2 separate regions of the Homo sapiens genome follow, and region 2 is linked to region 1. Evidence: fine-mapped expression QTL. A gene starts in region 1. The other region holds a variant in brackets. All regions are shown on one strand. Distances are from middle to middle.

Region 1 (8,344 bases):
AAAGAAAAATGAAAAAATTAGAGGAAAATCAGAATGTACAGACAAGGTATCTAATTATTAGCCAAAAGCATGGGTGAACAAATACATATTATTTAGCTAAAGAAATGTATTGCTTGACTGGCAGATATATGCTATCAGCATGTAAGTACCACATAGCAAAAGCAATTATTCATAAAGGCATTTATAGAACTGAAAAGACTGTATTTTAGGGTTGTAAAGAGAAAGAAATAAGAGCAATTCTAAATTGGTATTTATGCCAAATTTCTTTTAGCCCCAACATTTTTTAATCCTAATATTTTAATAGATACCCTACTTTTTCTGTGGTCTGTGATACCTGAATAGGGAGAACTTTTGAAGTCTCAAGGTCACTGGAAGGTTTGGTCTCTGGTCTTTTCCGAGTGGAAACTACAGGTTCTGATTTACTCTCTGGTTTGGCACCTTGGTCAACAGACTCAGAATTCTTGGCTGGCTCACAGTTTCCATCTTCAAGGATGGGGGCTGCTTCAGTTAGCAGTGGAGTCTCAATATCATCTTTATCTGACATGATTAGAACATCAGCTGGTAAAATGAAAGCCCAAAAAAAATTTATATAGGCTTCTTTGGTATAAAGTATTTGTTTAAACTTTTTAGTTTGAGATTATCATAGATTCACATACAAGTATAAGGAATAATACAGAGATCCCATATACCTTCATCCAGTTTCCCCCAATGGTAAAACTTACACAAATATAATATCACAACCAGGAAACTGATATCAATGCAATCCACTGATCTCATTCAGACTTTATCAGTTTTAAACGCACTCATTTGTATTTAGTTCTATAAAATTTTATCGCATGTATACCTTTGTGTGACTATCACCACAATCAAGATACAGAACAGTTCAATCACAAGGATCCCTTGTGCTATCCTTTTTTAGCCATAACCACTTCCGACACTCCTTCCAACCCAAAGCAATTACTGATCTCTCTGATGGACAGGTGTCCTCCATCTCTGTAATTCTGTCATTTCAAGATGTTATATAAATGAAATCATACAGCATATTACCTATTGACATTGACTTTTTTCACTCAGCATAAGCCCCTCAAGATCCATTTAAGTTGTATTAGTATTCCTTCCTTTTTATTTCTGAGTAGTATTCCATAGTATAGATGTATCACAATTTACCCATTTATCCATCGAAGGATATCTGTATTGTTTCCAGTTTGGGACTATTATAAATAAAACAGCTATGAAAGTTCATGTATAGGTTTTTGGGGGAACATAAGCTATCATTTCTCTGGGGTAAATGACCAAGAGTGCAACTGCTGGGTCATATGGTTAAGTTCATGTTTAGTTTTATGAGAAACTGCCATACTCTTTTCCAGACTAGCTACACCATTTTACATTTCCACCAGCAATGTATGACTGATAAGTTTTTCTGCATTCTTGCCAGCATTTGACATTGTCCCTATTTTTTATTTGAGCCATTCTGACAGTTGTGTGGTGATATCTCATTGTGGATTTAAGTTGTACTTCTCTAAGACCTAATAAGGTTGAACATCTTTTCATGTGCCTATATGCCATCTGTATATCCTTGTCAGTGAAATATCTTTGTATCTTTTGCCCATTTTCTAATGAGATTTTTTTTTTACTGTTGAGTTTTGAGAGCTCTTCATATATTCTGTATAATATGTGGTTTGCAAATATTTTTTTCCAGTATGTAGCTTATCTTTTAATTGTCTTCATTGGGCCTTTCAGAGCAAGTCTTTAATTTTAATGAGGTATAATTTATCAATTTTTCCTTTTACTTATTGTCCTTAAAAATCTTACTAGTTATTAATCATTCCTACCTCAATTTTTCCAGGACATCATGAAATTTAAGCCATCAGATTGGCTTTATGTCAGATCAACTTTTGAATACCAGTGTTACTCAATTCAATTCCTTCCAGATGTAGAGCTCTTTGGCAATTAAAGCCAAGATACTATTGGTGTCTCTACAAAGAACAGACACTAGTTTCCAGGATAACCAAGGATTATCAGAGTAGAAATCAATACATCTCACACATATGTACACACACGCTGTAGGTATGTACTGATATGTACTAAGTGCAGAATTAGACCCAACCCATGCTATCAAAATGTTTCTAATGTATTAGAAAAGAAAGGCATATTAAAACTAAGGCAGACTGGATGCAGCACTATAACAGGTGCTGCATTCAGTCCAACACACAAAATGCTGAAACATCCCTGCCAGACCATCCAACACACAAAATGCTGAAAAAAAACAGAACTCCATTAGAATCAGACAACGTAATTCATGAACAAAGTACCTGAAATAAGCCTAGAGTAGTGGTCACAAACTGGGAATTTAAGTGCCAAATCCAGCCTACAGATGTTTTTATTTGGCCTGCACAGTATTTAACCTTTGCAAAAACTAGATGCCAACATTTAAAAATCAGACTTCATATAAAAATATAGGCTTCCAACTTCTAACTTGTAAAATTAAAAGATCTAGCAACACCGGGCCCACATTCAACTCTGTAATAACTAGCTTGTGCTAAATAGCCGCTGGGCCCTTTTAGCTAGGGCAGTTGCTCTCCAGCTCCCTACAATCCCCCACGCAAATCCACTTCACTCAAATTATGCTACCTGATTAACCTCTGTAGGCATCTGAGTTGGCAACACCTGCCTTAAAAGAAGCTTATGATTTTGACAGATGATGATGCCAATGACAGGATTCAAGGATATGGAAATAACATGAGGGTACAGCCAAAGGCCTGAGGTCTGACAGTATGGAACATGGACAGTTACAGTAGGGAGTAGTTACCATGGCAGAGAGAAGAACAATGGGAAGGCATGAAGCTAGAAAGGTAGATTAAGACAACACTATGGAGTTCAGAATATATGGGCATATAATATAAACACATTACACATTTCCAAAACACATAGAGAAAAAATCCAGATACAACTACTCACTGACATACAAACCAACTTAGAAGTAGCCATTCATTCACTCGCAAACATTTTTTGAGTACCTACTACGTACCAAGTAGTACCACAGTACCTGTGGAGATAGAGAACTAATGTAAGCCATTCACTCCAAGGGCCTATCTAATAGGAAAGACGAGACAGTTTTTGCACAAAGTTCAATTAATGTTTTGTGTATATGAATAAATGTTTCCTATCTTTTCCTTATGCTCTCTCCAGGTTGCAACGCATCATTATCATCATCATAAATATATACAGTATACTATATGTAGAATATATAATATACATATTACATAAATTCATATAATTCCATGAAAGACTGGAAGGACATACTCCAAAATATATTTTTAAAGACAGGGTCTCGCTATGTTGGCCAGGTTGGTCTTGAACCCTAGGCCTGGCCTCAAGCAATCTTCCCCTGCCTCAGCCTCCCAAAGTGCTAAAATTACAGGCGTGAGCCACCATGCCCTGCCAAAACAGTCCCTTTACTAAAATATTAAACACTGGTTATCTCTATTCTTTCATTTGTGCCAGATATTTGAGCTAAGCCAGAAGAGAATTTTTTATGGTGATGGTTGTTTATATTATCATTACTATCGTTATTAGAATGACTGTACCATCTCTTTCCTCAACTCATTCATAATCTAGGAGAAAGGTTAAAAAAAAAAAAGGAATAAACACCAAGTACGTGGAACTGCACTATTTAGTGTTTTTGTAAGTCTTCCAGGCATTGTGTAGTAAGCGTGTAGAAATAATTGTAGTTTCTCCTCCAGTTATTTTCTCAGTTGGAGGAGAAAGATTCCAATAACTGTAAATAAATACGGCTGAGCCATATTTTTAAGAAATAAAAACGCATACGCTTACACACACACATATATATTACGTATATATACACTCCACCCGCCCCATTTACCAAAATGAAGAGCAGTACAGCTTAGTAGCTAAGAGCACGGGCTCTGGAGTTTACTTTCTTCCTGTCCTGCAGCGATTGTGGGGAAGTCAGGTCACCTGTCTGCCTCTCCGTTTCCTCATCTGTCAAATGGAGTTCTGGGTCCCTATAAAGATTCAGTGACGCGATATGTGAGGGGCTTGGAACAGTGACCGGCACGTAACCGCCCACAGGTTAACAGCTGCTATCACTTGGTGGGGTGATGGTTTGTATCCTATCGTTATTAATACGGCTGTCTCTAGATGAGCAAACATGCGCTCTCACTTCTTCCCACATTCAAGAATGGGGTCCCAAACGAGAGATTCGACGTAAACGTCCGCTCCCAACTAAGTTCTCAGGCGCTGACAACGACAAGAATTCCTCACACAAACGTAGCGCTTCAATCACTAAACCGCTTTCACAGCCCTCGACCCTGCCGCGAGATGTCCGCCGCCCACCGTCAGGTCACCGCCTCCCTAACGACTTCGGCTGCCCGGGCCCTGCCCCTGAACCTCGCACCCCTCCTGCCTCGTTCAGGAAGCTCCGCACCTATCCGGCCGCCACCCTCAGCACAGCCACGGCAGCCGACTCGGCGTTCCTACTGCCCCGGAAGTGCTCCTTCAGCGCAGAGGCGTGCCGGTGTGTCCGAGAAAACTTCCGAGTTAAGCCGCCGCTGAGGCCGGAAGGAGCTAGACGGCGGTCGGGTAGGTGACGGCTTGGTTGGGGTCGCTGCGAGGGGACTACTAGGAGCGCCGAGGCGTGAGTCGTAGCCTGTGGCTTGGGGTCGGGAGTGCAGGAGGCGAAAATGTTTGCCATTCTTTTGAAAGTCTGGCCTGGGTGTGGGAGTTCGGTCATCGAACACTTACTGAGAGCCAGATACCTGCCAGGCACTGCCCTGGGCTCCAGGGACACATCAGTCAACGAACGGAAGGGCCCTGCTCTCAAGCAGTGCGAAAAGCAGATTATAAACAAGTCAACAAACGGGATTATCTAAGGTGGTAGTAAGTGCTGTAAAGAAATTTAGACTGGATAATGTGATGGAACGAAGTGGGAGAGTAATAAGCCGTATGAAAATCTGGAATAGAGCATTCCAGGCAGAGAGAATAGCGCGTGCAAAGGCCATATAGTGGGAACAAACTTAGCAAAGTCAAGGAAAAGACAAAGGCCACTGGCTAGAGCAAAAGGAGCAAGGTGAGAATGGAGAGAGATGAGGCCAGGGACTTGAGCCCAAATCTTGTAAGGCTTATGAGCAAGGATAAAGAGTTTGATTTTTGTTTGGAATCCAGTGGAAAACCATTGAAGGTTTCTAAGCAGATGAATGACATGATCTGATTTATGACTCTAAGATTACTCCTGGGACCTCATCAGAAAGATGCAACTCTTCTGTTGCCCTCGAGCAGTGAAAATGCATGAAATCCAGACTGACAGAGCTAGTAAAATATTAAAATCAATCTTATTGTACAGATAAGAAAAACTGAATCCCAGAGAGGTGAAGGGACTTAGCCTTTAAGAACTCATGTTTTCCAACTCCATTTAATGCCCTCGGAATTATCATCTTAATTCCCAGATAAGAGTAATTGTCACTTCTAAAACTCTTCAGATATTTTCCTTTGCTTTTGACAGTGGTTCTCTAAATTTAGGTTCATCAATATCACCTGGAAGCTTGTTAAAATTCCAAAAAACAACAACAAAAAAACCCCTGCTTAAATATAAAATGGATCATTTCCTCTGATTTTCTGTTGTAATGGAAAATGCATAGAATTTGGGGCTAAAGTATGGAATCTTGGGAAGCCACTTATTTTTTAAATGCTGCTGATAATTATAGCAGCAGTTCTCAAACTTTTTGATCTTAGAATTTCTTTATACTTTTAAAATGTATTGAGAACTTCAAAGGGTTTTTGTTTATAATAGCTATCAATATTTACTATTTTAGAAAACAACTTTCAACAAAGGTTATTCATTTTAAAATAAACTCATTATATGTTAACATAGATAGCATTTCTGTAAAGGATATTTTCCAAAATGAAAAATTATTGAGAATGGCATTGTTTTACATTGTTACAAATCTCTTTAATGTCTGGCTGAATAAAAGACAGCTAGATTTTCGTAACTTCTACCTTCATTCTCTTACAATATCAATCATCATGTAACTTTTAGAAAATTGTGCCATATTGTGTGAGAATGTGAGTGAAAAAGGGATATGTCCTAATATTATGTAAATTGTTTTGAAACAGTGTCAGGGACACCCAGGAGTTCCTGCACCACACTTTTGAGAATTACACTGAATTACGGTGATTGTCATGCCAGTAAAAGAAATATGAGTTTGATTTGTAAATCAATAAACCTATATGCACATTAAAAATGCAGATGCCCAGGCATCCCCTAGAGATCCCAATTCAATAAGTCTGTGGGGTCAAGAAATCTGCATCTTTAACAAGCACCACAAATTAATTTGATATAAATGGTCTGAAAATTACAGAGTGAGAAAACCAGTCAAATGATTCTCTAGAGTGTTCTGCCTACTAAAACTCAAGATAGGTGTCTTTCTTATCTTCACCTCTCTCCATCAATAGTTTCCAGAGCCTGAAGCTCTGGAAAGTTAATAAGTTTGTAGCAGACACCTTTCACACTACCAAGTCGATGAGTGTCTGAACTCAAAATTTTGAGCACTTGCCACAGGCAGTGGCCCTGTGCTAAGGACAGAAGGTTTTTAGACTCTATCATTCATAAGCTTACAGTCTTTTGAACGGATAACTAACTGCTAAGAGGAAAACTGATAAGTCTTATAATGGCGTACTCTTAATGTGCTAGGGGACTGACAGAGCAAAAAAAAAAAAAACTCATCTGACAAGAGGGTGGGCATGAGAGGGTTTCCTGAATAAGATGAAATTAGAGTTGAATATTATAGAGAGGGTACAGTTTCCCCCAGAAAGATATTGACGGGAAGGGGCAGAAAGATTTTTAAGCAAAAGGAACAACTAGTAAGGTGAAAAGTTATTTAGAGAGAATAAAGTAAAACAAGCGTAGTTTAGGCTTTCAGCCATGGCAGGAAAGCTGGGTAGATTATAGGATTTAAGCAAAGAAACGAATGATAATGATAATCAGCCTCTAGGTGAGGAAACTAAAACCACTGGAGCACATCATAGCTAATTTGTGATAGAGGTAAAACTAAAGACCAGACTTAATGTTTAAATCCATTCATTCCTCCTGCAAGCAATTATCGTACATAGAGGCACCTCTGGGCTTCTCATGACTTTCTGTTCTGCTGCCTGAATCTATTCTTGGAGAATTACAATGCCAAATTGGAATTTTAAGCTTATCTCATGGGCAGTGAGAAATCACCAGTAGATTGTAAAATTACCCTGAATTGCTCAGATTTGTGTTTAGGACCAATTCTGAGTGTCACAGTGTTTGGATACATCATAGAGGTAAAAGGAGTTAAGGAGATCCATTCTGAAATTAAGGGGATAGTGTGGTATACCCAGGTGAGATAAAAGGATATGAGTTAGGACAGAGACAACAGGACTTAATTGAAAAATGTGTAGGAGGTGGAATAATAACAATAGCATATATTTATAATTTACCCACATTAGTTCATCTTATCCTCAAAACTACCCTATGATGCAGTTACTGTTAATATTATTTTATTTAATAAATGTGAAAACTAAGGCCTTGCAAGCCTATGGCTTCACCCAGGGGTAGGATCAGGCACCTTAACTCTAGAGCCCATTCTCCTAACCACTGAGCCATGATTGTCTTACAATTTTGATACTGCAAAACTGGAAGAATTGTCTGGCTATTATCTAAGCTGTTCATAAGCTGAACAAGTAGATCTGAGGGTAAGAGGAGTTCTGTTTTAACTAGACTGAGTTTCAAATAGAGATGTTTCAGACTATAGAGGGGGAAAAATGGCCTGGGAAGATCATAAATCTAAGCCTGTTTCATTGATGTTTTTGTCATTTGCATCCAGTAGCTATTCAGCAAATATACCTATGGCAAAAAGGATATAAGTTATGGGTATAACTGAAATAATCCTGGGTTTAAAGCAAAGCTCTGATAAATACAGACGATGTTTCTCCAGGTGCCAGAAGATATGTTGAAGTTTGAGCTCAGACTGACCAAATGCTAGTTATGGGGTATGTGATAGCTCCAAGGTAGTAATATAAAGGCTATTTTAATTAGAAACTTTTGAGTAAATGGCCCTCAGGATAGTGATTTCTGTTTGAATGTCACTAACCTTTTTTAGTTACAGATCCCTATAATAATGCTTGAGTCTAGGCAGAACAACTTTGTGTTTATTCTTTGCAAAGGGTAGGGTAGTGCTAACAACCTGCTCTTCATTTGCTTTTTCTCCCCTTTGCCGATTCAGAATGCTGCTTTGTCAATTTGTGTGCCTGCTGTAGGAACTGGTCCGTTTTCCAAGTGTGACAGTGCAGGCAGAGAAGG
Region 2 (8,314 bases), 21 kb after region 1:
GAATTGTAAATACTCTTCAGAACAATTTCTTCAGCTACAGGAAGCGTGGTGCCATATAATTTTAAGAACTTGGCAGTGGAGCTCCATTTGGGGCTTCACGTTTCTTCATATGACTTCTGATTATTGAAGCATTACTTCAGCTAGAGGCTCCTGAGGGAAATGTTCAGAGGAGGTTTTATCAGGATTTTAATTTAAGGTTTCAAACAGGGGAAGACAGGAAATTCAAAGCGTGACGGGATAAAACTCATGCCTCCCTTTGTCCAGGCTTATCAGAAGTAATACATCTGCTCTGAATAGCATGAATGAATCAATGTGCAGTTTTATCAGATGGCATCATGGATAAAGATGATAATGCTGCCTTTTCTGTCTCTCAGGCTGTTTCCATGGAAACCTCTAGAGCCAAATAAAAGCTAACCAATCATTTAGCCAAAGCTTGCCTTGGCTCATAGACTGGTATTTCTTTAAGGAAAATTGTTTTTATATATTTGACTATAAGAGCAAAGGCTCTTGAACATATCCTAGATTATGGAACACTTTTTCCCTTCCCTTTTCTCTGGAAAAATTAAATTTTTTTTCTGTCCACTGAGACTGGAGTGCAGTGGCAAGATCATAGCTCACTGCAGCCTCCAACTCCTGGGGTCAAGCGATCGTCCTGCTTCAGCCTCCCAAGCAGCTAGGACTACAGGTGTGCACCACCTTTCCTGGCTAATTTTTTTTTATTTTTTGTAGAGATGGGGGTCTCACTTTGTTGCCCAGGCTGACCTTGTACTTGTGGCTTCAAATGATCCTCCTGCCTTACCTCCCAAAGTGTTGAGATTACAGGCATGAGCCACTGTGCCTGGCCAAAAAACATTTTAAATCCCTTGTCTGGGGGTCAGTCCTCTAAACATCCCTCAGATTTCAGATAGTACTTTCAACCCTGTCCTAACATAGCAGGTTTGCAGTAATCTTTTAGAATATAGCTTGTCAAATTAGAGAATGGTTTTACCCCACATGTTCTCATAGGAGACATTATTATTTAGAACCCTAAGGTAGACATGTTTAAAATCAAAGTCCTAAGAAACAGAACTTTGGAAAAATGGAGGAAATGTTTTTAAAGTCTGTAAGTTTGCACGATACTGTATAGTAACTAAATGCATGCTACTCCGTTGTATCCTAGTTATTTTAGAAACAGAGGTGGCCTAATTTGGTGGCCAAAGTAACTGGTTTACTTTGAGTGTACCAGCTTATGGTGCCATTGATGAGGAATTAAAGTAGGTCAAAATTTAATTGGAGTTGGTATTACTTCGTAAAGCTAGTTTTCAAGAGGAAGAAAACCACACTTACTAATGTTTTCTGTATCTAATCAAATACTCTTCATATATAATTAAGCCTCATGTTATCTTTTTTTTAAATCAACCTTTTGAACTTCAACTACAGTCTAAAAGTCTTGATGGTAACTATAGTGTAATTATCTTTTTGTCTCACTGGATTTTATAGTTAGTGGAAAATGCCTTTACAAAATGTATTTAAAATAGCTGTCATCTCATTTGTAAATTTTGTCGTGTATTGTGATATAGTGAACCTTATTGTCCTTATGAAATGGTAGCTTTGTGAAATACATTCACCAAAAATCAAAATTTGAACATCTTTATGATTCCTTACCAGCTGAAGCCAGATAGACAGGTATTAATTGAGCTGATGCCCCACTTGAGTTTATAGACTGTTTGATAACTGCCTGTCCTCCAAATTGTGTATGTATATGTTACGATGGTTTAATTCTTGAGTCAGGGCCAGCACGCATTTATATTTTCTACCAATTACCTTGATAGAAATATCTTAGAAATTGCTGACCTGGAACGGTTGTGAGAAGACTCCTGGCTTCTTTCTTGCCTCACTTAACAAATATTTTAAGGTCAAAGCAATATCTGTGCACGGCTTTCCTTTTGCTCCTCCAGACAAGTGAGGCTGTTGGTATAGTCCTCTTCACCCTCTGCATGTAGCTTCACCCTAGATCAGACTTTTGTCTCTTGGGTCCCAGATGGCACAGGAGCACTGCATGCTTGTTTTCTAGAGCCCAGCCAGTCATGGGTGCTAGCCTAGTCTCCACACACCAGCAAGTAGAACCCAAGTGTATTGTATAAATATTTCCTGAGTACCAGTAAGAGAATGCATTCTTTTCTCATCTAGGCCAGGAATGTTGAAAATGCTCAGCCTTACATAGAAACTCCTAGATTTTCACTAACGCATTTCACAAAAGTAAATAAGTATTTCATATAATTCAGAGGATGTTTAAATTGTCAGCATTTTAATAAATACTTGCATTATAATTTTGTCTCTTTTTTAAAGAAAGTCATACTTGAATATAATTTATTAAACGTTCAATGGAGTATATAGTCTATTTGAAATTTTCTATAGTGTATGTTTCATTTGTATGTTTGACGAAATTTGTATGTTTGATGGAACTTGACGTTAATGATTTTAAATGGGTAATTTTTTGGGGAGAGGGTAGTCTCACTCTGTCGCCCAGGCCAGAGTATGATGGCATGATCATGGCTCACTGCAGTCTCAACCTGGGCTCAGCAGTTCTGCCTCAGCCTCCTGAGTAGCTAGGATTATAGGTGCACGCTAACGCACGTGGCTAATTTTATGTGTGTGTGTGTGTGTAGAGATGGGTCTCGTTATGTTGCCCAGACTGGTTTCTATCTCCTGATCTCAAGTAATCCTCCTGCCTGGACCTCCCGAAATGCTGGGATTACAATCATGAGCCACAGCCCCCAGCATAGGAGTAAATTTGAATTCAACTTGGATTCTAGTGTGGCTGGAATCCACTTTAACTTTACAAATATTTACACCTAAGCACTGTGTATGTTTTCAGTGCTATGAGCTACACTGAGATGGGTATCCTGCCCACAACGGGCCTGCAGATACCAGACTATCCTCCCTGGGCCCAAATACAGCAGTTTACTCTTCTGAAGTAAAGCATTTTTGGCAAAGGCAAGAGCTTGAGAAAAAGAGATGAGAAGATTTGGTACATTTTTAAAGAGCTTGTGATTATAGTGTGTAGTTTATGGTGAGATTTGGCGGGCAGGAGGTTTAGCTCTGGTAGAAGCAAAAGTCTGCAGTCCCATCAGGGTGAAGAGTGGTGATGGTTAACAGGCATGGAAAAGCACAAGGTGTTAGGAGAACGCAAAGGCAACAGATGGGAGGTGTGACTCATTACTTAAATGCCACAGACTCCTTAGAATGAAAATCTAGCCTTTATATCCCTATGGCAAAAGATTGCTGGACTTTAAATCCTGATTTCACCCCTAGCCTTGTAACCATGGACAAGGGCTTCAGCCTTTCTCGGCTTCAGTAAAATAGAATTGATAATGCCTACCTCACAGAATTAACACAAGGATTAAATATAGCAACCGATAAGCAAACACTGATAGCTCTGATCTACCACACTGTAAGGGGCTAGTCATGAGCCGGCGTCAGCTTTGTTAGTAGCCTTGTCCAACTGATGACTATATTTGCATTTGTGGTCAACTAAAAATTCCTCCACACCTCTGAGAATTGCATTTGGCTGCATGCCATAGAAACCTGATCGTGGTGGCTTATCATAATAGCTAAGAGATTTATTTTTCTCAAATCCAGAGATAGGCAGTCCAAGGCTGGTGCAGGGGCTTAAGAACTGGCATCAGGGACTCGGCTCTTTCTAGACTGCTCTCTATCCTTAGCATGTGGCTTTCATCCTCAAGGTCACAAGATGTCTTAGTTTGGGTTCCCCCAGAAGGAGCTCCTGAGAAACGGATTCACATGCAAATAGTTTATTTGGGAAGTGATCCCAGGAAGGTAGGGAAATGGGGAAGTGAGACAGGCAAAGTAAGAAAGCCTACACAGGATGTGTTAATGAGTGGGTTACTGCTGTGGGCAACCAGTGTTCAGTCCCGCTGGGGACCTCAGGGAGCTCTCTCTGCCCCAGGTGTATGTAGCTCATGCCTCAGTTGTCCCACCTCAAGGCCAAAGAGCTGGGATATTTATCCACCAACTACCATCTGTCATTAGTTAAAGGCTGCTCCCAGGGTCACTAACCCCCACTTTCAGACTGCATTCTACAGGCTCAGCATGATTCTGTAGCTAGCAAAAGGCCTCGGGTAGAGAAAAGGAGTTTTCAACAGGAAGCCTGTGGTAAATAGAATGGTGACTGTCAACGAATAATGGGCAGAGCACTGACAGCACCTGCTACATAGGACGACTGTTTTACCTCCAGTATCGTGTCTGCATTCCAGACAGGGAGAAGGGTAGAAGGTCAAAGGACAAAGGACACAGCAGCTGAGTTTGTACCTTTTTATCGAGAAAGTGATAGCTTTCCCGAAGCCTCAACCAACTTCTGCTATGCAGCGGCCAGAACTAGGAGACATGGCTACCTGCTGTAACTAAGAAAGCTTGC[G/A]GAGAGGAGCGTGTTTATTTTTAACTGGACACATTGTCCCAAAGTTTGGGCTTCTGTAATTAAGAAAGGAGGAAAAATGGAGGTTGTGGGTAACAAGCAGTGTGTGACAAGGTCAGCTTCACATGAATGACAGGAGCAAAACGTGGTTCTGTGGTGGATAAAATTGCAAACCATGTTCCTTGAAGATGATCACATACATGAACAAAACAAGAATCAGAAGCAGTAAGTGCTAGGCTAAATCTTCAAGTCATCATTTCTGTTGTCTCCAGTACACGTAGCTCAAACCGCAGACAGGTTATCAGATTCTGCTGGGGCATAGTTGGCTTTTCTTAACCTATTTATTCATGAACAGGTATTTGCTGACACCTGCTATGTGCCAAGTGTTCTTCCATGAGCCAGGGACTCCACAGTGACAGAGTGACTGGCAGTGTATATCTATTCACTGGGGTCAGAAAACCCCCTTCGAAAAGGGCATTGTGCTGAGACCCAAATTATGAGGACCCAGACATTCAAAAGTTAGGAGGGGTACTCCAGGCAGAGGAAAGAGCAATGGCAAGGTCGGCCTTTTGGAGGAACAGAAGAAGTAGGCCAGTGTGTCTAGTGAAGGGAGACAGTCACAGAAGCAGGCAGGGGGGCAAAAATATGGTAAGAAGATTTCAAAGCTCCTTTTGGCTGGCCCCAGAAATACATTTCTTAGAAGAAATGCTAGAAGTACCTAATTTGGAACAGAAGATTTACATATTTGGTGGGGAAAGTTTGATCATTCAAAGAGTACTCTTAGTTTTTATTCCTAAAGTCATCTGCAGCTAAAAAAAAAAAAAAAGAAAAAAGAAAAAAAAAATTTGCGCTGATTCCCTTTTTCTTCTTCTTCTTTTTTTTTTTTTTTTTTTCTTTTTCTTTTTTTGAGATGGAGTCTCACTCTGTCGCCCAGACTGGAGTGCAATGGTGCGATCTCAGCTCTCTGCAACCTCCACCTCCCCAGTTCAAGCAATTCTCCTGCCTGTAGCTGGGACTACAGGTGCATACCATCACACCCAGCTAATTTTTGTATTTTTAGCAGAGACAGGGTTTCAACGTGTCGGCCAGGCTGGTCTTGAACTCCAGACCTCCAGTGATCCGCCCACCTCTGCCTCCCAAAGTGCTGGGATTATAGGTATGAGCTACTGCACCTGGCCCTAATTTTCTTTAAGGAATTAAACTCCTTCAGAGTCCCTTAAATTCCAATCATTCTCTTGAGTTTTCATGTTTTTGCTGGAACCTATTGATTAGGAAATATATATATGTAAATACACATATGTCACTCCATCTGCCTAGAGGATCCAAGGCTGCTGCCAGCATGCTTATTCTTCCTGACAGTTGGGAACACTCTGCTTTGCCTCCAACTCAGCTATGCCATAGGGAGGACTCGAGTGTCCTAAGTGATGATAAATCAGCCTTTAAGGGGCCTCATTCAGATAGAAGAGCCACCCTCTGGGAAGTAGTTTGTCCGTAAGCAGAAGGGAGTTCATCAGAAGACACTCCCGCTCATGTAGCAGTTTTTCATTGTGGATTTCAGTCTTCTTTCAGAAGCTGTAAGCACACAATTGGACCATTCCTGAGGCCACTGTTCTAAAGCCCCTTCGTCCTTTGAACACCTAAGCTCACATGTATTCATTTAATTTTTAGCAGTTGTTTGTTGCACCCAAACTGGGAACACTAACTGCAAGCACAACTAAACATGGTCTCTGCTCTTTGGGGACTTACATCCTATGGGAAAGCAGATCCAATTCACATAGTGACATGGAGTGTATAGTTTAAAACTGAGCAGTGTGCTAAAGGAAACGATTCTATAGGCGCCTAGAACAAAAGAGCCTCATCTAGGTCAAAGAAGAATTCCCTGAAGAGGTGATACTTAACGCAACAGGGATTATTTGAGGGCTTATGTTCCTAGCCATGAGCCCGATCTATGGATTTAAGTCAGATCCTGCCTAGAATGAATTTACAGACCAGTTGAGAAAATAAGATGTTCCTGTCATAAACCATCTGAAAGAGTCAGTGTATCAAGTGCTAAATGGATTAGTGCTGGAAAATAAATGCAAGAGGACTTAAAGATGAAAAGAGTATGTGAGCAGAGAATGGGCAATGCTTTGTGGACTAGGTGAGATTTGAGCTAGACATGGAAGGATGAATTAGTCATGGATGCAGAAGGAAAGGTGTTAATCTGATCATGGAAATCAGAAATCTTCAATGTTGCCCTGTTCTCTAAGCAGGAAAAATATAATTCTTTGGCCCTCCAAGATCTGTTCTCATCCTATCTTACCAAATTTATCTTTTGAAGATCCTCCCCAGTCCCTTGCAAATACCTTAACGTATTCTACATTTTCCATTAGAATTGTCTTCTCCTTAACAATTTTTTAGCAACTTGACAAGATGGCATCATATATTAGTCATCTATTTTTGTAGATTCTGTATCTTAGGGCACCTTTCATATAGAAAAGACAATGTTTGCTGCATTTAATGGAACGGAAGGAGTGAACTTGTTCTGTGGTCTATGACTATGTCCATCAGTTGATGTGAGAATTAAGAATGAAGGCTTGGGAGGTATGGCCACCACTTCTCCATAGCATTCTTCCTTGGTGGCATTACCTAATTCCAAAGTTTTAAATGCCATCCTCACACTGATGACTCCCAAAGGTATATTGCAGCTCCAAATGTAGCCTTTCAGACTTGTAGATCTAATCCCTTCCTACTTGACATCTCCACTTGGCCAGACATCTCTCATGGCATCTCAAAATTAATATATCAAATATAGAATTCCTTATTCCTTTCCCTTATAATAAAAAATACACCAGTTTCACCCCTGCCGTCTTCTCTCAGTAAATGACACCATCATCTCATATGCTCAAGCAAAAGCATCATCTTTGACTCTATTTGCTTTACTCTCCACATCTGTTATGTCGACAAGTCCTACTGTCTCACTTCAAAAAACATATGCAATCCATCCACTGCTCCCTACCTCCACTGATACCATCCTAGCCCAAGACCCTGCCATCTCTCACATGTACTATTTGATGGTCCTTACTGAGCTTCCTGCTTCCACTTTTGTCCCCAGGTCATCCATTCCCTACACTGCCACTGGAATGAATTGTGAAAGTAATAAATTATGTCATGTCACCCTCTGCCTATACGCCACAGTATTTATCCTCACTGAAAAAAAATTCAGAAGAAAATCCATCCTCCTTGCCATGGCCTACAGGATGCTAATATGAACTGGTTCTCTCCTATGGGTCCAAACTCATTGCCCACCACTCTCCACCTCACCCATTATATCCCAGCCACCCTGGCCTCCTTGCTGTTCCTCTAACACACACACCAAGTCTGCTCCCACCTTAAAACCTTTTTCAGGGCTGGGCACAGTGGCTTACGCCTGAAATCCCAGCACTTTGGGAGGCCAAGGCGGGAGGATCACGAGGTCAAGAGATCTAGACCATCCTGGCCAACATGAAACGGTTGTGAAACATGACAGGGTGAAACCCCGTCTCTACTAAAAATACAAAAATTAGCTGGGCGTGGTGGCACGCACCTGTAGTCCCAGCTACTCAGGAGGCTGAGGCAGGAGAATTGCCTGAACCCGGGAGGCGGAGGTTGCAGTGAGCTGAGATGGCGCCACTGCACTCCAGCCTGGAGACAGCAAGACTCCATCTCAAAAAAAAACAAAAAAACAAAAAAAAAAACCACCTTTTTCATGCTGCCCCTCTGCCTAGAATGATCTACCCCAGATGTTCCCTTGACTGGTTTATGAGCATTCAGAATTCAGATTTCAGCTTAGTTATCACCATTAGACGCCTCCCTGACCATACTAAAGTAGGTGTTCCTAGGTTGGGGTTAGGATGAGGGTTTAATACCCTCTTTTTCATT

The links. PIP is the estimated chance that this variant, and not a neighbour inherited with it, causes the effect.
Region 2: its variant is the best candidate, but not a certain one, in a credible set for the expression of MFAP3 in whole blood (INTERVAL, PIP 0.72).

The regions. Positions count from the first base shown.
Region 1 is chr5:154,034,410-154,042,753 of GRCh38, forward strand. It overlaps MFAP3 (microfibril associated protein 3), which reads left to right and starts at 4,558. Exons shown (of 3, transcript NM_005927.5): 1 at 4,558-4,602. FAM114A2 (family with sequence similarity 114 member A2) reads right to left here and starts at 4,501. Exons shown (of 14, transcript NM_018691.4): 1 at 4,448-4,501; 2 at 335-558. The coding sequence starts at 544.
Region 2 is chr5:154,055,064-154,063,377 of GRCh38, forward strand. It overlaps MFAP3 (microfibril associated protein 3), which reads left to right. Exons shown (of 3, transcript NM_005927.5): 3 at 1-2,387. Among named protein-coding and RNA genes, the nearest start is that of MFAP3, 20 kb to the left of the region's middle. RefSeq lists an enhancer at 3,661-3,710. The variant G/A (reference allele first, on the strand shown) is at 4,418.